6 separate regions of the Homo sapiens genome follow, and regions 1, 2, 3, 4 and 5 are each linked to region 6. Evidence: fine-mapped expression QTL. A gene starts in region 6. Each other region holds a variant in brackets. All regions are shown on one strand. Distances are between the middles of the regions. Region 1 overlaps MBTPS1 (membrane bound transcription factor peptidase, site 1). Region 2 overlaps MBTPS1 (membrane bound transcription factor peptidase, site 1). Region 3 holds the start of LOC105371378 (a long non-coding RNA gene). Region 4 overlaps MBTPS1 (membrane bound transcription factor peptidase, site 1). Region 5 overlaps MBTPS1 (membrane bound transcription factor peptidase, site 1). Region 6 holds the start of MBTPS1 (membrane bound transcription factor peptidase, site 1).

Region 1 (4,000 bases), 58 kb after region 6:
CATGAGGAGCTGAGTGTGGCACTCAGGCAGTTGGTGCAACCTGGTGGACAGTGGTGCTGACCACCTGGAACCCTGGGGCACTGGGAGTGGAGCCCTGGTCAGGTCATGGCTGTGTGTGCTTATCTGGCTGGGCTGGGCCACTGAGAATGCATGTCTTATGAGAATAGGGGAATCTGGAACATGTTGGATTTACTTTGACCTAAACTCGTGACTTCTGAACTCCCATTTCCCCCACTTTTGGGGACTAACTTAAAAAAAATTCCTTTAGAGATTTCTTCTTAAAAGCTAAATTCCGGGCCACGTGTGGTGGCTCACACCTATAATCCCAGCACTTTGGGAGGCTGAGGCAAGAAGATCACTTGAGCCCAGGAGTTTGAGACCAGCCAGACCCATTTCTGCAAAAAATAAAAAATTAGCCGGGCATGCTGTCATGTGCCTTCAGTCTCAGCTACTTGGGAGGCTGAGGCAGGAGGATCACTTGAGCCCAGGAGCTCAAGGCTGCAGTGAGCTATGATTGCGCCACTGCACTGGGTGACAAGAGCGTGACTCTGTCTGGAAAAAAAAAAAGGAATTCCTAAACAGGCTTGTTGACTTCGCAGACTGCTTTTGGCTTCTGGATGCCCTCCTCCAGTACACATCGTATGGGGTGACACCGCCTAGCCTCAGTCACTCTGGGAACCGCCAGCGCCCTCCCAGTGGAGCAGGCTCAGTCACTCCAGAGAGGATGGAAGGTGAGTGGATGGGCAGGATGCCTTGGGGAGGGAATTGGATCCAGCTGAACATGATGCTACTTCAGCCAGTGGCTGTGCCTGCCAGCAAGTGGGGCCAGTTTGTGTGCGCCGCTGAGTGGTTTTCGTAATGGCTGCGGGTAGAGCAGCACTCAGCGGCTCTAACCTGCCGAGAGGCCATCCTTAGTCCCCAGAGGGCCATGATCGAGGACCCAGTGTGCAGCTGCTTTCCCACGTGCACCCCGACCCTCACGCCACTCTGAGTGTGTTTACCGTCCCGCTCTCACAGGTGAGGACAGTGGCTCCTACAGATCTTCAGGAAGAATCACCAACATTCTAGAGCACTTGCCAGGTCCCATGCAGCAGGCTGGGATGCTCCCATGGATTACCTCACTGTCCCCTCTCAGTAATCCTGTGAAAATAGATGTTATTATTCCCAGTTTCCAGATGAGGAAATGAGAGCTGAGAGAAATTAGATAACTGCCTGAGATCGCCTGGGCGGTATGTGGTGGTGGAGCCTCAACCCGCCTCTGGGGCCTGTGCTGGTGCCGTGGGGCCGCCAGCTGCTTGGCACTTAGTGGGGTGGGTATCAGTGCGTCTAAGTCCCTGGTGTGCTGGTCCTTACAGCGCTGCCCGTAGAAGGCTCATGGGAACCACAGGCATCATTTAAAATTTTCCAGGAGCTGCGTTTAAAAAGTAAAAAGAAACACAGATGAAACTATTTTAATAATATACTTGAGCCCAAGACATGAAGAATATTAGAATTTAAACACGTGATACCTTATTTCACTTGCTCAGTAGCTACGTGTGGTTGGCACAATGGTGCAGATCTAAGA[A/G]ATAGAAAGAATTTTGAAAATGCAGAGTGGTTTTTTATTTGGCCAGAGAATTAAATATTTTAGAAGAGAAGTATTTTTTCCATGAAACCGGTCTGTAGCTTAGATTTCGCAGGTGTAGCCTTGCGTGTGTCAGTGGTGGTCAGCAAAGTTTGACCAGCCAGTGCTGTGCACACATCTGCCCATCTTCAAGGGAACGGTTCTGATTTTCTCACCCACCTTCAGCAATGGAAACACACATTGTCCGGGAGGAACCAATCAGGCGTGGCTCCTGCGGCTCATGGAGGATAGCTTAATAGAGCACAGGGGCTCTGTGCTGTGTTGTGGGAAAGCAGACAGACTCATAATAAGGCCCTCCTTTTTCCTTTGCATTTTAGTAATAGAGATGATTTTCCTTTTTGTTGATGTTGCTGCTAACCACAGGAAACCATCTTCATCGGTACTCCAAGGTTCTGGAGGCCCATTTGGGAGACCCAAAACCTCGGCCTCTACCAGCCTGTCCACGCTTGTCTTGGGCCAAGCCACAGCCTTTAAACGAGACGGCGCCCAGGTTAGTGTCCGCCTGTGCCCTTCCACTCTTTCCACGGGGCTTGTGAGTCATTGCTTTTCTTATAGGAGAGAATGGAATTTTACTGACATCACTATCGAATTGTCAGATCTTCAAGCTTGTCATTTGCGACAGTTATTTAGTGAACCTCGTATTGGCCTTTGGAAATAGGCTCTTTGGTGGTATCCTGCATAAAAAGTGCTTTGGATAATTAGCATTTTGTTACATTTGGTTAATTCTTTTTTAAAAAGCTGGGATCCAACAGAGTGATTTCATGGGAGCTGGAGCTCTAAGTCCTGTGGTTGGGGAGTTAAGAGCTGCCGGCTGCAGTGTGTTCCCTGTTTCAGACATTGATGATAAGATACAGATAGTTCCCTTCTTCTGTCATCCCCGGGGGCCGCGGTTGCAGCCTGTCCAAGAAGAGCATGCTTCTGTGTCATTACGTCCTGTGCTGACTGTGACTGGGGGTGAAAGCACCCGCCTCCGATGGCAGGCTGTGACCTCTGCTGCTGTCTCCACACTCCTGTTTGCAGTGCCGCCTGGATCCCTTCTCCAGCTCACTAACTCGGCTTCTTCATTTGCATCGTTTCCTTTCCGTACCCAGTGTTTGAGGTGGACCTGCTGTTTCCCTCTGTGGCTAGGACCAGCTCGGCATGGCTGGTCCCCTTTTTCTCCAGATGCCACCCCCTTACTTTTTCTGTGACGTCCCTGGCCCAAACAGGACAATATAAGAAGAAAGGGGGAGCTTCTCCTGAGAAAGGGGATGAAGCCAGGGACAGCTGTCAGAGCTGTGTCCGTGGCCGGGCAGGCACACCTCCCACCCCATCAAGCAGGAGTCTTGCCCTCCGAGGCCCCCTGGCCGCCTGGTACCCGGCCCCTCTCCCCAGCCCCTCAGGCAGGAGGCTACCCTCTTGACAGGCCCCCTGCCTGCCTTCTTTTCCTCCAGTGATGGTATGGGGCCAGGGACGGAGGCCACCTTCCGTCCTGTAAGGCGAAGAGGAGAGTGCCCGTGTGAAGGTGGCGAGGCTGCCTTCCGCCTTTACTCCTCATCATAAACCGAAAGTGCTGAACACACCACGCACTGACCGTATGTCTTCATTTCGAATATGCTTAATAGAACACAGGAAAATGGTAGAATCATCACATTGTCTCATCAGTAGCTTTCTTCCTGAACCTTAATCACTGGGTACTTTTCCATTCCAGTTCACATCTCATCATTTAAACATTTCTGATAAGTTTCCATTTTTGCATCTTATTTATTTATAACCTTCTATTAGCCTAGCATTCAAACCAGCATTTATATTCCAGCCATGGTCAGCAATTCATACTCAGTGAACAGTGTTAGCTGAATTTCCAGAAACCCAATTATTCTCCACAGTGTTGTTCAGGACTTGAAGCAGATAACAATATCCTTTCTATCCTTGGCTATCTACCTGTTCACATCAAATAATCCATCACATACTGAACCGGCCCATCCAGCATGTTGATAATGGACAGCTCCTGGAATTTGATTTTCACAATCACTCAGTAATTCCTTCTTCTCAGTACGCTGCTGGGTTTTACATTTATCTTGCTTTTCATATCTTGTTGAAAATTATTCTCGGTCCCCAGAGACCTAGATCGACGCATATTCTGAGTCTCCAAAAGAGATTTGAGACCAGGAGACAGCTCCAGATGCTGTCAGCCCAGTGCTGGGGGCAGGCTTCCATCTGTGAAGTGGAGAGGCGCTTTGGGCTTCTTCGTTGGCATCAGGTGCCCATACCTAGGGCAGCTGTGGAAGTGTCAGCGTCCTCCCTGAGAGGAACTCCTGCTCCGGTGGCTCCTCAGTCCTTCCGTCAGTATGCTGTAAAGCACCCACATGGTAATGGGTGTGGACTGTTACCATGACTGCT
Region 2 (4,000 bases), 36 kb after region 6:
ACTCTCAGTTGTAAAAGGATGTCTTTGGGGCTGGCATTTATCTTGTTACTGTATTTTCCCCAAAAATAAATTGTACTTCTTCTATCTAGATGAAGTTTTAGTTGAGTGTTGTGATAACACACAAAACTCTGCGTATTTGGAAGTTATTCTATGCTAATTTAAAAATTAATTAATATAGGCAAATAGTATTAAATGTCTTTATATTTTAAGTTCTCTTTAAGTAAATTGAATATTGATTTCAGCTTCTGATGCCAGATATTATTTTGTTAGTAATCCTTAATAAAGCTAGATACTTGGCTGGTTGTGGTAGCTCACACCTGTAATCCCAGCACTTTGGGAGGCCAAGGCAGGAGGATTGTTTGAGGCTAGTAGTTTGAGAGCAGCTGGGGCAACATAGTGAGACCTCATCTCTACCAAAAAAAAAAAAGGGGTAGATATCCATCTCTTTCCTCCTTTCTCTGTTCTTCCCTTACAGTTTGCAGCCAAATTCTTGAGAATGTTGACATTGGCCAGACTGGCCTTTGGAGAATAACCATGTGCTTGCTGGAAACACTGTCTTCTCTTGCCGTTGTTTTCCTCTCTCCAGTGTTATATCAAGTGAGGAACAGAGTGGAGGGAAGGTGGATAGTGGGCTACCTGGCCTGTTTGCACACTTGTATTTGCCAGGTGGAGAGAATTCAGTTAGGGCTGCAGCTTCTAATGTTGTTGATTCTGGAAACAGAAAATACTGGTTCATTTCTCCTAAACGCCATGATTGTTAGCAGGAAGTGAGGGCTCTGCCTTCACTGTTGAGCCCGTCAGCTCTCTGCTGTTGAGTAAGCGGGCAGCCGAGGGGTTGTTCCTTTTCCCAGCAGCTTCTTTAAGTACAGATATTTTCAGCAACAAGGAAGCCTTTCAGTCTCCTCATCTCCCTGCAGCAGATGAAACTGCCGTTGTGATCTCTGTGTGTGACAGTCGCTCATAATGGAAGCCGAGCAGCAGTGGCGGGCCTCCCGAGCTCCAGCCTGATGATGCTGTGAAAGGCAGTGGAACGCAACCCTTGAGTTCACTTTATAGGCAGGAAGAGGAGGAAGATTGTTGACCCATAGCTTTGAGCACTTCTTTTCTTCTGTCATTAAGAATCTACTTTATCTCCTCTACTTATGTCAGATTTCCCATTTAGAAAACCTGCCTAGACTCCAACACCAAACATCATCACATACGAATATTTAGGAACTTAGGAGAGTTAAGTTTTCCTTTTTTGTGTACTGATATTCCCACCTCAATTTTAGGAATTAAAATTCACTTGTATTTATAATACATAAATACACAAAAATGGATGTTGTAACGCTAGTATCACCAGGCTAAGTTCCTAGCCAGGTCACACTGTGTGTTAAAGCTTGTTCAGATGCATTCTCATGGTGAAACTGAAGGTGGCCTTAGGTCTATGTCGTTCTGAAAGGCATCATCCATCAGGGTGGCTCATCCCAGACAAGCCTCCCAATCTGGAAACAAAAAGGCAAGGATTGGCTTTGGAGGCGGCGGTCCTCACTCAGACCTGTGCCTCCTGCTAGTCCTGTGTCGTGGCCCCTCCCCAGGATCTGAATGTGCTCCTCCTTCTCCCAGCCAGGCGGTGTCCCATGGCATCTTCTTCCTG[T/C]GACCAGCAGGCTTCCTCTCCCCAGAGGAGTCAGTACCTCCTATACATTCATGCCTTCTGCAGCCTATGTGGTTGTTTAGTTGAATTATCACAAAAATATGTGTTACTGATGCATTTAGCATAAGTGGGTCCCGTAGAAGGTTGCGGAGTGGTCAGTCCTGGATTGGGTACAGAGATGAGTGTGCACTCATTCTCTCATGCAGGCTGTGCCAGACAAGCACCTGTTGGATACTAAACAAGACTGCAGGCCTCTTGTGTGCACGTTTGTAGGTTAGGTTTTAGTGGTCCAATTTCCATTCTTTTACTGAGAGAAAATAGGCAATTCTTGATTTTTCCTCCAGCACAGTCCAGAAGCGTGAGCTGGTGAATCCCGCCAGTATGAAGCAGGCCCTGATCGCGTCAGCCCGGAGGCTCCCCGGGGTCAACATGTTTGAGCAAGGCCACGGCAAGCTCGATCTGCTCAGAGCCTATCAGATCCTCAACAGCTACAAGCCACAGGCAAGGTCAGTGCACCGCCCTGCCGATGGGTCTTTCTCTCCTTCACTGGGCTCTGGGCGAATTTTCCCTCTGCACAAAATACAAGCCTCAAAACAGAAAATGATGACTAAGCACAGAATTCTCGGGGTGCTTGGAGAGGTTTTGCTGCTGCTTCTACAGGGTGCTGCTGGCAGAACTGGTAGCTGCTTTCGCTTACTGATGTGATCTTTAATATAAATGGTTAAAAGTAATGATTTCTGAGTGGTTTTTTTGCTTTTGTTGTTTACTTTCTTAGACTCTTGAAATAATCTTAGGTTTACAGAAATTTTGCAGAAATAGGAGAGAGTTGTCCTACAAGGTTGCCCAGTTTCCCCTGATGCCACCATTTCAGATGAGTGGAGTACAGCTGTTAAAACTGTCATACAAACACTGACACTGTGCTGTAATTCACCTGCAGACCACATACATCTCGCCAGCTCCTGTGGTACTCCCGTCCGGCCTGGGCCCTGCTTTGTTTTCACCCTTATTTTGAAATGATTTTAGATTTACAGCAAAGTTTCACAAATAGTTCATGAGAACCCCTGAGTCCTTCACCCAGCTTTCCCTCACCTTAGTATCTTCCATAACCTCAGTATGAGCGTCAGAGTCTGGAAATGAACCTTGATGTAGCACTGCTGACTGACCTGCAGGCTTCACGCAGATTCCGCCCATTGTCCCACAGGTCCATTCTCTGGGATCCAGTCCAGGATCCCACATTGGATTTCATTGTCCTGTCTTCTTGGTTTCCTCTAATCACAGACGGTTCCTCCGTTTTCCTTCATCTTGTTATTGGGGGTATTCATTTTCATCATTTGATTAATGTGGTCTGTCAGTCTGGGTCCTCCAAGAAGCAGACGTCAAGCTAGGATTACATGTTCAAAAGATATGTGGGGAGTGAGGGCCTCTGAAGGATAAAGGGAAGGGTGTGGGAATAGGCAGGAACTGCAGTGCTGATCTGACACCGAAAAGTTAGGAGGACTGGGGAGGAAGAGGCTCGCACAGGCCTGAAAAAGTTTTGGCTGATGGGAAATCCTTGAACCAGATTGCCTGTTGGAGGAGTCCTGTGTCCCCCCAGAATGGGCCTGCCCTGGTGCCTCCTGTGTGCTTAGTCATTGGCTGGGAGCAGCCCCAGGGGAAGCGTGGCCTTGGCACAGACGTGTGAGGACCTGAGGGTGGCAGCTGCGGGTGTCAGCCAGCAGTGTCCTGCAGAGGAGACCTGAGCTGCTGGCCCTGTGGGGCCAGAGGTGGCTCCTGCCAGGTGTCTCCACTGTGCAGCCCGTGTTTCCTTTGTGACTTCTCAGTGTCTTGTGGGGGCATGTTTCGAGATGGCCTTGTTTCGTCACATACTTCCACTCACTCATGTTAGCATGCCTTGATGGTTCTTGCCTTTGGTGATTACTCCTGACAACTTTGACACGTGATGATTTTCTTTTTCCTTCATTCCATTTACATTGATTAATTGGAACTCTCCTGGAAGGAAGAGCTGTCCTTTCTGTCCCATTTATTTATTCAGTTCTTTACATCAGTGTGGACACATAGATATTTATTTTACTCTGTGGATTATAATTAATATCATTTAGTGGGTCGTTCAAATTGTCCCCGAGTTGGCTGTTGGGAGCTCCATCTAGTTGGCTTATGTGTGTTTTCAGCATGTGTCCAGCCTTTTCTGAGCACTTTCTGTCTTCCTGGCAGCACAGGATGTCCTGTCATGCACCTCTGTGCTCTAGCCTTGGTATCAGTTCTGTCTCCAAGCAGCTCTTTGCTGATGGCCTCTTCTAAAGAAATCAAGACCTGGGCACTCGGGGTGCTCCAAGCTGCTGTGCTCACAGTGGTTACTGCGCTCTTCGG
Region 3 (4,176 bases), 670 kb before region 6:
GTCCCCTGTAGCTCAACATCTGATATCCATGGACACACTCCAGGTCTCAGACCCTAGCCTTGGAAGCAGGCCCGGCTGCACCCTTCTTTCGGTCACAGCAGAGGACCCCACTGAAGACTGCACTCCGGCGCAGTGAGGTGCGGCCTCCCAGTGTGGCAGGGAGCATTTGTAGCCACAGGAAACAGGGACATCTTCCTAGAGAGTGAACTTTACTCATTGCAAAGCTAATATACTTTTTCAAAAATATGACAATTAATTTTTTTTTGAGACCAAGTGTCACTCGGTCGCCCAGGCTGGAGTGCAGTGGCGCAATCTCAGATCACTGCAACCTCTGCCTCCCGGGTTCAAGGGATTTTCCTGCCTCAGTCTCCCAAGTAGCTGGGACTACAGGTGCATGCCACCATGCCTGGCTAATTTTTGTATTTTTAGTAGAGATGGGGTTTCACCATGTTGGCCAGGCTGGTCTCCAACTCCCGAGTTCAGGCAGTCAGCCTGCCTCAGCCACCCAAAGTGTGGGGATCACAGGCATGAGCCACCACACAGCCAAAAATATGACACATTTTATGTCACTGTATTAGCCCTAAGGGGGCGCCGCTCACCTGCCAGGATGCCAAGGGTGCATATTTCAATGGAAAATTGAGGCACTGACTTCTCTCTGCAGAGCCCAGGAGTAAACTGTATGTGATAAAATAAGACAAGAATGTCAGGGTCTCTTGCCAGCCCCATGGGTATCAGAAGCTCTACTTTAAGCAGCAATAAATAAGTGGTTACCTGTGCAGAGAGGGACAGACAGGTCAGCTGCGCTGAGTCCCAGACCTGTGTCTTCTGATGGAAACAGGAGGAATGAGGCAGAGACGGGGTCCTCAGATCTGGAAGGCAATCAGCACCTTACAGGGAGGCTTTCAGTCTTTTAAAGCAGAGGAAGAATTTTTTTGTTAAATCAAATGGAGAATACCATCATACTCAGAAAATAGGCAAAAATAATTGCTTTCTTTGAAGGACACGTGGGAAGTCCAAGGTCAGGGTTATTAGACCCGACCCAAGAAAGCCAAGGCTATACCTCGAAAACCAGGGCACGTGGCCTGATCCCATGAACCAAAACACACTCCAGAGGGGTTGTTAAAAAAACAAAACCAAATAATAGGGGAAAAAGAAAGAAAAAAGACACAGAGTTAGATTTTGTCTAGTTCTCAAATGTGCCAACAACACAGGCACCCCTCAGAAAGTTCCTATCAGGGGACTTTTCAAATACACAAACACAACTGAGCAGTGTATTGGCTTGAAACAGGCAGCATAAATGAAGCTACTCTAATGTTTTCGTTATTAGAAAATCAAACAATAAACACTTTCCCCCAAAACAGAGCAAGAACTTAAACGGGAGTCTATGAGAAAATGAAAGGGATAAAAGTTTTTATAGGTCGTCCGCGGTGGCTCACACCTGTGATCCCAGCACTTTGGGAATTCGAGGTGGGTGGATCCCTTGAGGCCAGGTGTTCAAGACCATCCTGGCCAACATGGTGAAACCCTATCTCTACTAACAATACAAAAATTAGCTGGGTGTGGTGGCGTGCACCTCTAATCCCGGCTACTAGGGAGGCTGAGGAGGGAGAATCGCTTGAACCCGGTAGGCGGAGGTTGCAGTGAGCCAAGACCACACCACCGCACTCCAGCCTGGGCTACAGAGTGGGACTCTGTCAAAAAAAAAAAAAAAAAAAAAAAATTATAAAAAATATCTTAAGCATATCACTGTGTGAAATCCTAGAGTCAAAATAAAATAGTTTGCAAATCCCACAGCAGCAAGCGCTGTGTAAATTCCCTTTACTGAAAATACAGCACAGAACAGTGATTTCCAGGTTTGCTTACTTGCCAGTTGTTTCCAAGGAAGGGCCACTCAACGAAATACTACTGTGTTCAGCAAATCAGTGCCTAGCAAATGATCCCGTATCCTGACCACAGAACAACAGGAGACACAACTAAATCCGTGAAACAAAATGCATGTACGACCAAGAAGCAAACGTACAATTTGAGTCCCACTGGAAAAAAATGTACACTTGCTCATTAAAATGATGTAACATGTCTTACTGAGGTGGGGGATGAGCAAAGGGAGGGAAACAATCAGAAAAGAGAATGAAGCATTTGGTCACTAGTTCATAAAGGAACATCACCATGAGGTAAAGCCAGCAGATGCCATCGGGTGCATTTCATTTTCGAGCAAGTTAACTTTTCCCCAAAAGGTGCAAATAAGATGGGAACGGC[C/T]AGTCTAAAAGATGAATAACACTAAAACAAACAAACAAACAAACAAACAAAAACAACAAAAAAAACCCCAATTCCTAGGAAGCCAGAGAAAATGTCTGAAGAAGGCAGAACAGTGTCTGCTCGGTGACTTTTGCTGTGACTGATTTTAAAGGAAAAACATGCCGGGCGTGTTGGCTCATGCCTGTAATCCCAGCACTTTGGGAGGCCGAGGTGTATGGATCACGAGGTCAGGAGTTCAAGACCAGTCTGGCCAACATGGCGAAACCCCGTCTCTACCAAAAATACAAAAATTATCTGGTGTGGTGGCAGGTGCCTATAATCCCAGCTACTCGAGAGGCTGAGGTAGGAGAGTCACTTGAACCCAGGAGGTGAAGGTTGCAATGAGTTGAGATTATGCCATTGCATTCCAGCCTGGACAACAAGAGCAAGACTGTCTCAGAAAACAAACAAACAAACGAACAAACAAAAAACAATAAAGGAAACACAAAACACTTCGTGTAGAGTTGGCTATTACCACTTGGCCTTGCTAGACACGGATTTTAAAAACACTAACATTTTGGTCTAATCTCTTTTAAGTCCACTGACCCTCAGGAAATTGGTATAGAGATACTGTCTTCACTAGGCTCAGTCAAGATATTTTTCCTTCTTGAGCCAGAGAAGTACCAGAAAAACTGTGAGTCTTCTGTCTCTTGCTGTTTTTAGTTCTTTTGATGCACTCAGCACTTCCCAAGAGAAATGAAGCCAAGAGACTGCTGTGTCCACACTGCTACAACTTGCTCATTCTCATTGACTCATGAACGTGAGTTGGCTGTACAATACTAGCTCACTGGTTTATTGGGTTATTTCCCATAGTTCAAAAGCCACTGACTTGGACTATGCTTGTCACTTTGTAACCAGTTGGCCTGGTCAAGTATAAGCAGTCTATGACAGCAATAATCAGAAACGTCACCAAATAAAAGACATTCTAAGATGATGCCTTTGCTGACTGCAAAGTTCCTGCTCACGTTGCCCACACATTAGACTAGGATGGTATGACCAATGACATCAAGCAATGAAAGCAGGGGCTGGGCACGGTGCCTCACGCCTGTAATCCCAGCATGTTGGGAGGCCGAGGCAGCTGGATCACCTGAGGTCAGGAGTTCGAGACAAGCTTGACCAACATGGTGAAACCTCGTCTCTACTAAAAATACAAAATTAGCCGGGTGTGGTGGCACATGCAGAACAATCGCTTGAACCTGGGTGGTGGAGGTTGCGGTGACCTGAGATCGCACCGCTGCACTCCAGCCTGGGCAACGAGGGCAAAACTCCATCTCAAAAAAAAAAAAAAAAAAAAGAGAGAGAGAGAGAAATGAAAGCAGAATGCCACTGTGAGCCACTTGGGTGGCTGAACCATAGTTACACCAGTGGAGGCCAGAATGACCTCCATTCTCCATCCTGCCTCAAACACACAGTGGCTTGCGCTTCCTTGGCTAGTGGACAAATAACATACCAACCAGGTAAACTTCATGACATCTTCCCTGTAAGAGAACTTCCAAGTCTTGTTGTCAACAACTGACAAATGCGAGGAAAATCTCCCTATAACATACTAAAAATGTAACCATTCACTGCTTTAAATGCCACCTACAAAGGCATGTTAAATGATAATGAAGGAAAATCACTAAGTCTGTAGCCTCAGCACCAAGGTTAATGAGCAAAGTTCCCGAAGTAAATAACCTAAAGTTAGGAGACCGTACTATGAAACTTACAAAAACATTAAACGTTGCAACATAAAATGGAAACGTTGTGCGTTAGGGTTCTCTAGAGGGACAGAACCTATAGGTAGATGTATATATAAAGGGGAGTTTATTAAGGAGTATTGACTTACAAGAAGGGGTCCCACAGTAGGCCGTCTGCAGGCTGAGGAGCAAGGAAGCTAATCCA
Region 4 (4,000 bases), 25 kb after region 6:
TTGGCCTTCCACAATATGTCATTTTCTGTGGGTCCCAGGAAGGAATGTATTTTATAGGCAAAATCCAAAATGATGATTTCTTCAAACATAATTGTGTTTGCTTTCTTTTCCGAATAAGGTGCTAATGTAAGAGTTGCTGTTTTTGACACTGGGCTGAGCGAGAAGCATCCCCACTTCAAAAATGTGAAGGAGAGAACCAACTGGACCAACGAGCGAACGCTGGACGATGGTGGGTCTCAGCAGCAGTGAGAACGTGGTCATGTGATCGACTGAGAGTGTGTTTAGTGCATGATTCCACAGTCTGTCCAGCAATTATTCAGACAAGCCCAAGGTGTTATTGTGCTTTTTGTTGTGGCAGAAACTGCTCTGAATACCTCATAGGATGTCGGGAGGTAGCACTTCAGGAGAGAGTGGGCATGCCTGGTGTGGGGGCAGCTCCCTGTCCCGGAGAGCGTGGAGTGGCTAGACCTGGAAGGGGTGCTTGTGCCAGTGACGTCTAAGGGGATCGTAGAGCAGCAGCAGAGGCCCTCCTCTATCCAGCACTTGGAAATGGAAGGCCGTGGAACTCATGGCCTGGAATGTTGCGTCCTGGCACTTGCTATTCAGTGTGTTTTATGGGATTGTTTTCTTTATGGACTGCAGGGTTGGGCCATGGCACATTCGTGGCAGGTGTGATAGCCAGCATGAGGGAGTGCCAAGGATTTGCTCCAGATGCAGAACTTCACATTTTCAGGGTCTTTACCAATAATCAGGTAGGTGTTTTGAGGACTCCTGAAACTTGAGGAATTCATACTGAAATGTAAAAAGCAGAATCACTGGACTGTACACACTTGTGTAAAAGGAGTGCACGTCAGTGACGCTGAGCCATTCATACTGCAGCACGCATGCTCAGTTTACTGTTCCTCTGCCTCCTGGGTGGCTCCGCCCTTCTCCCACCAACCACTGTGTCGACCTAAGTTGAACCCTGAAGACCCTGCCGAGGCTACTACTTACGACGATTCTTTGATTTCCCTTGTTTCTTCTCTACCTCCAGGCTTCCCCAGGCCTCTGTACCCTGGGTCGGTTGTCTGCATGATAGAACAGAACAATTGCAGATAGAATAAGTGTGCTTGCCTCCCTGATTGGGTTCCTACCACCTTGAGCTGTTTTATTTACCTCTGTGTCCCGACACCTGGCATTGTGTTGGGTAATGGGAGTTTACAAGCCTTGTTCCTTCACTCTTCATTTGGAAACTATAGAAAAGGGAGAGGGTCCTAGTATTTGTTTCTTTTTTCGTTATTTATTTTTTAAGGTTAATTTTTGAATAGGTAATGCATAGCTCAGAAATGTCAGAAGGTAACACAGTGAGACCCCCACCCCTGTCCCCGTCCAGCAGGTTCTTTCCTCACTGGCCCGTGTGTCCTGTGTGATGATGTTCCTTTCTTATACCTCCTCGTAGAATTTCTTTGGTGTATATGAGAAAATATAAGTACCTGGTCTTTTAAAAACCTTTAAAAACATAATCTTAATCATTACATTGCTTCTCTTCCTACCATAAACTTAATTTTATATTTTTTAAAAAAGCAACAGCTAAAGGTGATCCACAAAGTAATGAAGCTTTTGTAAGGAACATAGGAGCACTTGAACATCAGAAGACTAATACTGTGAAATAACTGTTACTGCTGCCATTTGTCCTTCAGTCTGTTTAGGAATGAAGAAGGTTAGATAGATAAGTTGAACTATTCCAAAATGCTTAACTTAATAGAAGTGCCTTGGGATAAGTCCTTTTGTAGGAGAGGGGCGGTTGGGAGCTTGGGTGTTATCTAGGAAGGCATTCTTTGTGTAGAGAGCTGTGCATTTCACCTAGAGAGATAGGCCACCTGCAGAACACAGCTGCCTCTTCCTTAGGTTCAGCTCCAAGGACTTAGAACTTCTACGTGTTGTATTTTACTCTCCAGAGCATTATGCATGCTCAGGATTCATTTCTGGTTTTAAGTAAAAAAAAATTAAGAGAACTACTTGTAATTTTAAAAGAGCCTTAGAAATAAAAACTGTCCTAGCACTTTAAAACTTGATTGAAACACTAAGCAGACTGTTATAATATTTAACTAGGTATCTTACACATCTTGGTTTTTGGACGCCTTCAACTATGCCATTTTAAAGAAGATCGACGTGTTAAACCTCAGCATCGGCGGCCCGGACTTCATGGATCATCCGTTTGTTGACAAGGTTTGTGGAGTCACTGCACACGGGGTTTGGGTGACAGCTCCTGCTCTTTCGCAGCCCAACTTTGCATCATATCTAGTGTGTTGGTGGCTTTTCATCCAGGTGGTGACAGCTTTGTGAGAACAGATGGCTAATGACGTGAGCTTCAGTGATTTGCATGTCATAAATTGAGTGGGTTAGAGGCCTCAGAGTAGGTGTTGATAAGGAGCACATGGTGCCTTGCTGATTTTTTTTTTTTTTTTTTTTTTGAGATGGAGTTTT[A/G]TTCTTGTTGGCCAGGCTGGAGTACAATGGCACAGTCTTGGCTCACTGCAACCTCCGCCTCCCAGGTTCAAGCGGTTCTCCTGCCTCAGCCTCCCAAGTAGCCGGGATTACAGGTGCACACCACCATGCCCGGCTAATTTTGCTATTTTTAGTAGAGACGGGGTTTCACCGAATTGGCCAGGCTGGTCTCCAACTCCTGACCTCAGGTGATCCACCCACCTCAGCCTTTCAAAGTGCTGGGATTACAGGCGTGAGCCACCATGCCCTGCCAATTCTTTCTTACCTAAACATGCAATTCGTGTTTTCCTCAAAGTGACTAGAAAGTCAGCATCTGCTCTGTGCACTGCGTGCTTCTCCGTCCCGGGTGGTATCCTCTAAAAATGCAAGTTGCCAGCACATCCGCCTTTATAATGGGCCAGTGCTGCTTTTTTAGAACTGTTTTTAGACGTTGTGTATGGTTTTTTTTTTTTTTTTGACAGTTATATGTTTAATGAAAGGGATACTTTCATTAAATAAATGCTCCTTTTGTAGGTGTGGGAATTAACAGCTAACAATGTAATCATGGTTTCTGCTATTGGCAATGACGGACCTCTTTATGGGTAAGTAGCCCCAGCAGGGATGACCTCGGGGATTTTTTCCCCCTTAAATAACTGAAAAATTGTTATCTGTTTGTGTATCTACCTATGGTTACTTGTTTATGTCTGTCTAAAACTTGTCTTAAGGATGTTTTCCTCATGTAAAAAAATACTATAGGATGTAGATGAACACCCAGGTACTCACCACTCACCTCAGCAGTTGTCACCTCAAGGCCGGTCTTCCTTCTATTTATATATTTTTAAAATTTTGTTACAAATAGTAATTTAGAGGCCTAAAGTTTTTATTCTAACTACTTTTTTTCCCCAAAAATCAATCAGAAAAGTGAATCTATTAGGGATTCTGCAGTGTTGATGAGATCTGTGTGCAAAGCATCCGGGTAAAGAGGCAAACGGAAGAGGTTTCTGCCTCTCTCTGAAAGAGCAGGTGCGAGCACAGTGACACTCATTCACAGGGGAAGTGCTGGCGGGCCTAACGGCAACATGGCCGGTGCTTTGGGAGTTGATGAGAGGGATCATTTAGGAGGGAGGCAGGGAGGACAGTGTCACAGGGGGGCCTTTGTGCTAAACTTAAGCAGCGTGAGATGCGAAACATTTGCCACTGAATCCCAGCCAGTACGCTCCTGTCTGGTTAGAGGTCTCAGTTTTCTTTCCACCAGCAGCTTCATTTTATTCTCTAGATAATGTTTATAAGTCATTTCTTGTGCTCGAAGTTTCTGTAGGATGCTTTACACAAATCCAGGGCATAAGACAAGGTGAAGCTATGTGAAGTTCATGTTTGCATATCAGAAAACGTGAATATTGGCATTCATAGGACTCTAGCCTAATAGTTGAGTAAATGATCGTGAACCTTGTTAGAGGTCCAGGGTTCTGGATTTTGCTGTCGCATCAGTGATACGTATCATGAGCCATAGATGTAAGTGGCATGAACATACCCTCGC
Region 5 (4,000 bases), 41 kb after region 6:
GTAACTTAGGTAAGGTGGCACTGCTGGTCCGGGTCGAGAGCGCCCGGTAGCTCTGTTAGGTAAGGTAGCACTGCTGGTCAGCGTTGAGAGCATCGGGTAGCTCTGTTAGGCATTGCTTTGTTTCTCTGTGAAAGGGTTGTGCCTTTTGGTATTGCGTGAGCAGTGTGCGTGAGTGCCGGTTTCCCCAAAGCCTCACTGACAGAGTGCTCTGTCTTGTTATTTTTACAAATCTGATTGGTAAGAAATGGTATTTCAGTATTGTTTAATTTGTGTTTCTCTATTTATGAGTGAGTTTGAACACCTAAGTCCATGTTTAAGAGCTTTTTTTTTTTAAGCTTTCTTGTGAATTGTCTGTTCATTTCTTTTTCAATGGGGTTTTTGGTCCCTCTTTAGAGTTCTCGATATATGAGTGTTAGTAACCCTCCGTCAGGGATGCATGTTGCGGATTTTTCTGCCACTTTGTCAGTTGTCTTTTGACTTAGTGTAAGGTGTTTTTGCCATGCAGTTGTTTTTTAATAGTCACATTTGTTACTCTTCAGCTGATGCCTCTGTATTTTGAGTCCTTAGAAAGTCTTTTTCTGCACTGAGGGAGGTAAAAGAGAAATTCACCTGTGTTTTCTTCTAATATTTGTTTGCTTTCTTTTATTTACTTGAAATTCCTTGATCCATTTGGAGTTAATTTTTGTGTATTGTTTGGAGGTAGGGATGTAATTTTTTCTTTTGCCAAATGGCCACCCATTTGTTAAAGCTCTTGTGATTAAAAAGTCCATCTTTGCCCCAGTGATTTGAGATACTGTCTTTATTATGTACTAAGTTTTCATATGTATTATGTCTATCCCTGAGCTTTCCATTCTGTTCCACTGGTCTGTCTGTCCATGTACTGGTACCACACTGTTTTGATTATAAAGACTTTATAGCATGTTTTAATATCTGTTAGTGCTAGTTCCCCTTGTAATTTTTTTTTTCGTTGTTTTCTTGGGTATTCTTTTCTTTCTTTCTTTTCTTTTCTCTCTCTCTTTTTTTTTTTTTTTTCTTTTTTAATGCAGCAGGGTCTTGCTCTGTGGCTCAGGCTGGAGTGTAGTTGCATGATCTCAGCTCACTGTAACCTCTGCCATCTGGGCTCAGGTGACTGTCCCGTCTCAGCCTCCCAAGTAGGTGGACTGCAGGTACATACCCCCATGCCCCGCTAATTTTTCTATTTTTAGTAGAGACAGGGTTTTGCCATGTTGCCCAGGCTGGTCTTCAACTCCTGGGCTCAAGCCGTCCTCCCGCCTCGGCCTCCCAAAGTGCTGGGATGACACGCGTGAGTCACTTCACCCGGCCCTTCTTGGCTATTCTTGCATGTTTGTTTTCTTCATATGAATTTTCATATCATCTTACTTAATTCTATGAAAGAAGCTTGTTGGAATTTTTGTTGCAATTGCATCAAATTTTAAATGAACTTAGAAGTAATATTTTTATAATGCTGTTATTTTGTCTAAGAGCAAAGGATATGTTTCCATTTGCTCTTGTGTGTCTTCCAGGAGGTTTTACAGTTGTCTTCATATAGGTTTTACACATTTCTTGGTAAGTTTAAGTATTTAATCTTTTTGTTGCTGCTGTAGATGGGGCTTTCTCTTCTTGTATATTCTCTAACTGGTTGATTTTATTTCTATATGTTAATTTTATATGCTGCTACCTATCTGAATTATTGTTTGAGTTAGTTTTATTATTGCTTCTCTAGGGTTTTCCAGGTGTACTAACCTACCATATGGAAATAAAGATAGTTTTACATCTTCCTTGCCAATTCTTAAGGCTTCATTGATTATTTTCTGTCTAGTTGCATGGGCTGGTATATCTAGCACAGTGTTGAACAGCAGGGGAGAGAGTGGCTA[T/C]CCTTACGTTGTTCCTAATCTTAATGGAAATGCCTCTTGTATTTCTCCGTTAAGTAAGATGCTGGATTTATCCCTAAGGTGTGTATATCTATATATATATGTATATATTTTTTATTGTGTTAGATTATCTGTCTAGTGCTGTTTTTCTGAGCGTTTTCATGAGGACTGTGGATTGAATTTTGTATGTTTTTTCAGCATCTAGAAAGGTAATCATATGAATACTTTAGACCTATTAATATATATGGTTTATGATATTAATGAGTTTCCCAATATTGAACCAATCTGTAATAAATGCCACTGGTCTTGCTATTTTGTTTTCTTAATATGATGTTGAATTCTGTTTGCTAATAATGGTTTCCTAGTTAAATCATGTTGAATTAGTAGTCGAATTAAACTGATTACAGAGCACAATTACCAGCAAAGTTTACAAACACATTTCAAGTAGAACAGATACCTTTGCTGATGCATACAATTGTAGTCACATGGCCGATCCATTCAGGATTTTTAAAACTAGGTAGTACCTATTTCCTTTTCTTTTTCTTTTTTTGGTGAACTTCAGACTTGTGAAGGTGGTATCTGTTGAGATAACTTAACTGTGATATGTGTTGATTATAACTGCCTGTGAAAGTCACAGTATCCCTAAAGATATTCCATTTGGTTTCTTAAATAGCAATTCAGTTGGCCCAGATACATCTTTGTTATTACAAACTAATAAAAAGTACTCCTTATACCGTAGTTGCTGTTTGAGAAAGGCTGGCATCTCCTGTAATGAGGTGAAGCAGTTGCGCAGAGCCGCCCGCCCACTGCACGTGGGTGCAGCTTGAGAAGCAGGATCCACGTATGCCTGGTGCTCTCAGGGAGGCCATCGTGGGTCACGTCTTGTCTGAAACATTTGTCTGTTCCTGTCTTTTCACCTGTTCGGGCGTAGCTGACACCGCTGCTGCACTAGGAGTGATGTGAACCCAACACAAACTCAGTTCAGATAAGGGGAAACCATGAAACCAACATAATTGCCAGAGCACTTGTGTCAGCACTTCTGACACAAATTATGTCAGGGTCCCCAGCACCTCTCCCAGGCTCGGTGCTTTAGGGCTCACGGGACTCAGCCTGTGGTCATACTCCCAGCTAAGATTCATTATAGTGGCACAGCAAGGATGCACAGCGGCTCTGTAAGGGAAAAAGATGCCTCACACGGAGAAAGCCTGGAGAAATCCAGGCGCAGCTTCCTAAGCTCTCCCCTCTCTCCTGCCAGGCAGGGTCTCACAGAGCTGGCCCCTTTCCTAGCAGCAAGCTGCATTGACATGTGTACGTGTTTTTGCCCAGGGAAGCCCTCTAGAGACTCAAGTCCAAGTTTCCATTAGGGCTGGTCACGTACTCATTCTCTGCCAGTGACAACTCCCAAAGCTCCAGACTTGCAAAAGCAGAGGTGTCCCTGCACATCACACTGTCTGTATAGACAGCAGGCTGGCACAGAGGCCTTATCTGTGCAGGAGCATTCCAGAGCCAAGTTCCCAGATGCCAGCCTAGGGCAGCGCTGTAAGCAAGCCCTTCTGAAGCTAGGTCTGCTTTGTTAACTCTGTCTTGTACAGTTGTGTTGCTTCATTGTAGTTTTCTCATATGATCTACTCTAACACTGTATTCTTTATTTCAGTTTGAGCCCCAGCTACATAGATCTGACTGAGTGTCCCTACATGTGGCCCTACTGCTCCCAGCCCATCTACTATGGAGGAATGCCGACAGTTGTTAATGTCACCATCCTCAACGGCATGGGAGTCACAGGAAGAATTGTAGATAAGGTGAAACTTCTCTCTGACTTGGTCTCTGACTTGATGGTGAACTTAGACACAGCCCAGACCTTTAGGCCATAGTTACTTCTGCTGAAGTTAAAAAAGGAAAAGTTCTAGGCCGAGGAGAGAGGATCACTTGAGCCCAGGACTTTAAGACCAGCCTGAGCAACAAAGTGAGACCTGTCTCTACAAATAATAAAGAAATTAGCCAGGGATGGTGGTGTGTGCCCGTGGTCCCAGATACACAGGAGGCTGACGTGGGAGGATCACTTGAGTCTAGGAGGTTGAGGCTGCAGTGAGCCAAGATCATGCCATTGCACTCCAGCCTGGATGACAGAG
Region 6 (4,000 bases):
TCCAAGATTTTGATGCTCTCAGCAAAGCCACCCTTGCCAAAAAAGCAGCCTGCCTGTAGTGCCACCGGCAGGTTTACTAGGACCTCCAAGATCTCTGCAGAGTGGCTGCTGGGACTCCAGGAGCCACAACTCCAGGGAGGCTTTCCCAGGGTTGGCTAGTGCCTGTGCCATCAGCTATTACTCTTTAAAATAACATTTCATTTGAATAAAGATTTACCTTCCCATGGAATTACAGATGCTTTATTCTGTATGTGAAGCACAAGTTTAGGAAGTTATTTTAGAACCAGAGTGGTGGGAATCCACCAGTGGTAGACCAGGATCCTGTAGCTCAGGCTGTCTTGGTAGCTCTCCAAGTAACTTCTCTCCCACACACCAGTCCCCTCAGTGTATAGGCATTCTCTGAAACTGGTGGTGGTGGCATTCTCTCCCCTTCTTTGGGGCCTCGCTGTCACATGATGGATGCCTGCAATCACTGTTCTACCCCAGTTTCCAGCTGTAGGGCCATGTATTCAATGGCATAGTGACTAAAGGGCTGTTCAGAGAACCCTGACCAAGATTAATTTACCTAAAGTTGGAACAGAAGGACATAGTCAAGTTTAAAATCAAATGCTTTGTGTGGTGGCAGAAGGGAGTGCCTTTGACGGTTTGCAAATGCAGAGAGGCAAGGATTCTCCAAAAGTTCAGAAAATCGTATGAGATCTGAGTCAGGAAAGGATTCAAGAATCCACCACCACATATTGAATCATATAGGAGCCGAGCACTTTATGAGTATGCTTTTTGTTTGTTTTTGAGACAAGGTCTTGCTGTGTTGCCCAGGCTGGAGTGCAGTGGCACAATCATGGCTCACTGCAGCCTCGACCTCCTGGGCTCAGGCAGTCCTCCCACCTCAGCCTCCCTAGTAGCTGGGACTGCAGGTGCACACCACCACACCTGGTAAAAACAAAACCAAACACAACTATAGAGACATGTCTCTGTTGCCCAGACTAGTCTCAAACTCCTGGGCTCAAGTGATCCTCCCGCCACAGACTCCCAAAGTGTTGAGATTACAGGCATAAGCCACTGCGCTAGGGCTTATGTGTGTACTTAATTTAACCCTCATCCTTTAAGGTAGATATTAGTACCCCTATTTTTTAAAAAAATTATTTATTTATTTTTAAGGCAGAGTCTCGCTCTGTCGCCCAAGCTGGAGTGCAGTGGTACGATCTCAGCTCACTGCAACCTCCGCCTCCCAGGTTCAAGCGATTCTCTGCCTCAGCCTCCTGAGTTGCTGGGATTACAGTCATGCGCTACCACACTCAGCTAAGTTTTTATATTTTTGGTAGAGCCGGCGTTTCACCCATGTTGACCAGGCTGGTCTGAAACTTCTGACCTCAAGTGATCCGGCTGCCTCGGCCTCCCCAAGTGCTGGGATTACAGGCGCGAGCCACCCCGCCTGGCTAGTACCCCTATTTTTGTAATGAAGAAGCTGAGGTACAAAGAGGTTAAACAACCTGCTCAAAATTACGAAGTAGAAGCCTGAGGTGGGGTATGGTAATTTGTGATTCTACATTTATCCACCATATTAAGTCAACTGTGTTAAATCATGTTGAAGGAAGATGATGCGCTGTGATCTGTAATATTGGTGCAGTTCAGCATTACCGTGGTGCAGTGTCAAGTTCCAAAAGACACAAAACTGTCTGATCGGCCTGTAGCGCATCACCGCCCACCAGCAGTACCTGAAGACGCTTTCAGTCCCCTGCTAGTGCCGTACGGAGTCCGGGCTGGTCCATTTACATTGAAAACAAACTGATCCTAGCATCTAAGTCACCCAGACATCTTTTAGGCGGCAAGCTTTTCAGACAGTTTAACACATTTATTCTTGTTTTTTCAAAAAGAGCAAACACGTGGCGTTACAAAGGTCCTCCGTTTCGCACGCACCGGTGTCCCGGCAGCGCGCTGCGCGTCGGGAGGCCCAGTCTGTCGTCCCGTGGGGCCGGGGGTCAGGAGGTCGGGCAGGCGGGATTTGGGGTTTCGCGTGTTCCGGACCGGACACTTCGCCATCTTAACGAGCTACCGCCCGGGTTAAGGGGCACCCAGGGCAGGTGCCCGGCCGGGGGTGGGGTGTCCGAGCCGCCGGTGCCTGGACGTGGACCCCTGCAGGAAGGGTCCGCGCGGGAAGCGAGCTCTCCACGAGTCCATGACAGCAGGCCCGCGGGGGCAGGGAGCCTGCGCCAGGCAGTCTTTCTAGATCCTGGCCCAGCCTGGCCGCTTTCGCGCCCGTGCTCCTTTTCGGGGATCCTAGAGCGACGCGCAGAGCGGACCAAGGGTTCCCCCAGCGCGTTCTCGCCGCCTGGCAGCTCGCTGGCCACGCCCCTCCGCTTCCACCCTGCCACCGGCCCCCGCCGCCGCAAATGTCGCGAGACCTTCGTCCATCCTCCCGGCGTGGTCCCGCTGCCCACGGCGTCCAGAGCGCGCACGCAAGCCCCGGGAGCGCGGGACAGACAGGGCACGCTGGGTCGGCGGAGCTGAGGCTCCCAGCTGTGGGCCTCGCTGGCCCGGTCGCCCAGTCTCGCGAGAGTTGGGAGTAAACAGCCCCGAATGGAGTGCCCAGGCGTGTTCGCCGCGGAGGCGCCGTTATCCCGGGCCCGCCGGCCCTGAGCTCCCGGCGGCGCAGGTACGTCAGCCGCCCGCGCGCGGCCTCCCCGACCCGCTCCGCCTAGCGGCGGCGGCCCGCTCGCTCAGGTGTGCCGGTTGCGTCCGAGGCCCCGAGGCGAGGGCTGCGGGGGCCGGGCCGGGTCGGGGGAGGTGGGCGCGGGGCCTCCGGCGCTTGTTTGGACACAGCGTGCCTGTACCGCGGCCCTGCGGGGGTCTGCGCGCTCCGGCAGCTTGTTCCGTTGCCTGGTTTTCTTTACGTGAAATGAGCATTCACCGAGTGAAACAATACGCCCTGCTCTGGCCCGGAGCCTCCAGACAGACTCAATTCTAGGTGCGCTTCCGGGGCAGTGCTGGCGTCAGGTTTAAAAGACGTCGATTCTTTGCCTTATCTCGGTCTGTGCATATTGCGCTGCTGGTTTTTGGAAATGCGGGGATTCTGTTCGGCGAACTCTCAGAACCAGATTGCCTTTTAAACCTGTAGCTTCTTAAAAATCTTGCCTCGCCTTGGCATGGTTGCGCTACCTAAGACCGTTGTGGATCGTCAGTATTTTTATTAAGATGTTTACCTTTCATATTGGGTTGAGCCCCTGAGAATCTTGGCCTATTTGTCTACACAAATTAAGTTATTAGATTCTGATTGACACTTCGAAATTACGTGGAGTGGAATACGACCTGCGTTGAATTCTGGAGACTCATCCTTTAGTCTGAACTGTGTAGGTAAGCCCTCCTAACGTCAAGGTCTCCAATTGTATGTCTACGAAAAGGAGGGCTTGCAGAAGAGAAGTAATTCCTCTCATTTTTTTTTTTTTCAATCTGGAGAATCCGCTTTTATTATTTATACTTATTTTTTAATGTAAGAGCTTCATTGAAGTAGAATTTACATACCATAAAATCCACCTGTTTTAAGTGTACTATTCAGTGGTTTTTAGTAAATTTACAGCAGCACAGCCACTACCAAATCCACTTTTAGAACATTTCCGTTACCCCAAGACCTCTGATGCCCAGTTGTAGTCAATGCCCATTTCCAGGCCCCGCCACAGGCAACCTTTCATCTACTTTGTCTTTCTAGATTTGCCTTTAATGACTATTTCGTATATTCAGATGGAAACATATGATATGCGGCCTTTTGTGTCAGGCTTCTTTCACTTAGCATGTTTTCACAGTTCATCCATGTTGTAGCATGAATCAGGATTTCATTCCTTTTATGACCAAATAATATTCAGTTGTATGGCTATACCACATTTTGTTTAAGCATTTATGCAGAACACTTTTGACAAATAAAAGTTTATTTTATGCTCTAATGTGTGATGCGGATGACAGCAAAACTGTTGATTGAGAATGGGAGCTGGGACCTGACCCAGACACG

What was found. PIP is the estimated chance that this variant, and not a neighbour inherited with it, causes the effect.
Region 1: its variant is fine-mapped to the expression of MBTPS1 in whole blood (INTERVAL, PIP above 0.99). The same link has a PIP of 0.9 or more in T cells, esophagus muscle, lung, monocytes, subcutaneous fat and tibial artery.
Region 2: its variant is fine-mapped to the expression of MBTPS1 in whole blood (TOPMed, PIP 0.93).
Region 3: its variant is fine-mapped to the expression of MBTPS1 in neutrophils (Naranbhai 2015, PIP 0.91).
Region 4: its variant is fine-mapped to the expression of MBTPS1 in monocytes (TOPMed, PIP 0.99). The same link has a PIP of 0.9 or more in T cells.
Region 5: its variant is fine-mapped to the expression of MBTPS1 in whole blood (INTERVAL, PIP 0.98).

The regions. Positions count from the first base shown.
Region 1 is chr16:84,057,413-84,061,412 of GRCh38, reverse strand. It overlaps MBTPS1 (membrane bound transcription factor peptidase, site 1), which reads left to right. Exons shown (of 23, transcript NM_003791.4): 20 at 600-731; 21 at 1,985-2,111. Among named protein-coding and RNA genes, the nearest start is that of SLC38A8, 17 kb to the right of the region's middle. The variant A/G (reference allele first, on the strand shown) is at 1,565.
Region 2 is chr16:84,079,886-84,083,885 of GRCh38, reverse strand. It overlaps MBTPS1 (membrane bound transcription factor peptidase, site 1), which reads left to right. Exons shown (of 23, transcript NM_003791.4): 11 at 1,978-2,139. Among named protein-coding and RNA genes, the nearest start is that of MBTPS1, 35 kb to the left of the region's middle. The variant T/C (reference allele first, on the strand shown) is at 1,637.
Region 3 is chr16:84,781,911-84,786,086 of GRCh38, reverse strand. LOC105371378 (a long non-coding RNA gene) reads right to left here and starts at 1,491. Exons shown (of 3, transcript XR_001752293.2): 1 at 772-1,491; 2 at 600-675. The variant C/T (reference allele first, on the strand shown) is at 2,257.
Region 4 is chr16:84,089,940-84,093,939 of GRCh38, reverse strand. MBTPS1 (membrane bound transcription factor peptidase, site 1) reads left to right here. Exons shown (of 23, transcript NM_003791.4): 5 at 119-229; 6 at 643-752; 7 at 2,092-2,208; 8 at 2,998-3,065. Among named protein-coding and RNA genes, the nearest start is that of MBTPS1, 25 kb to the left of the region's middle. RefSeq lists an enhancer at 1,192-2,391. The variant A/G (reference allele first, on the strand shown) is at 2,467.
Region 5 is chr16:84,074,267-84,078,266 of GRCh38, reverse strand. It overlaps MBTPS1 (membrane bound transcription factor peptidase, site 1), which reads left to right. Exons shown (of 23, transcript NM_003791.4): 12 at 3,526-3,670. Among named protein-coding and RNA genes, the nearest start is that of SLC38A8, 33 kb to the right of the region's middle. The variant T/C (reference allele first, on the strand shown) is at 1,875.
Region 6 is chr16:84,115,388-84,119,387 of GRCh38, reverse strand. It overlaps MBTPS1 (membrane bound transcription factor peptidase, site 1), which reads left to right and starts at 2,446. Exons shown (of 23, transcript NM_003791.4): 1 at 2,446-2,653. It overlaps MBTPS1-DT (MBTPS1 divergent transcript), which reads right to left and starts at 2,345. Exons shown (of 1, transcript NR_186375.1): 1 at 225-2,345. It also overlaps the pseudogene LOC648774. RefSeq lists an enhancer at 1,716-1,875 and silencers at 2,026-2,125, 2,526-2,955.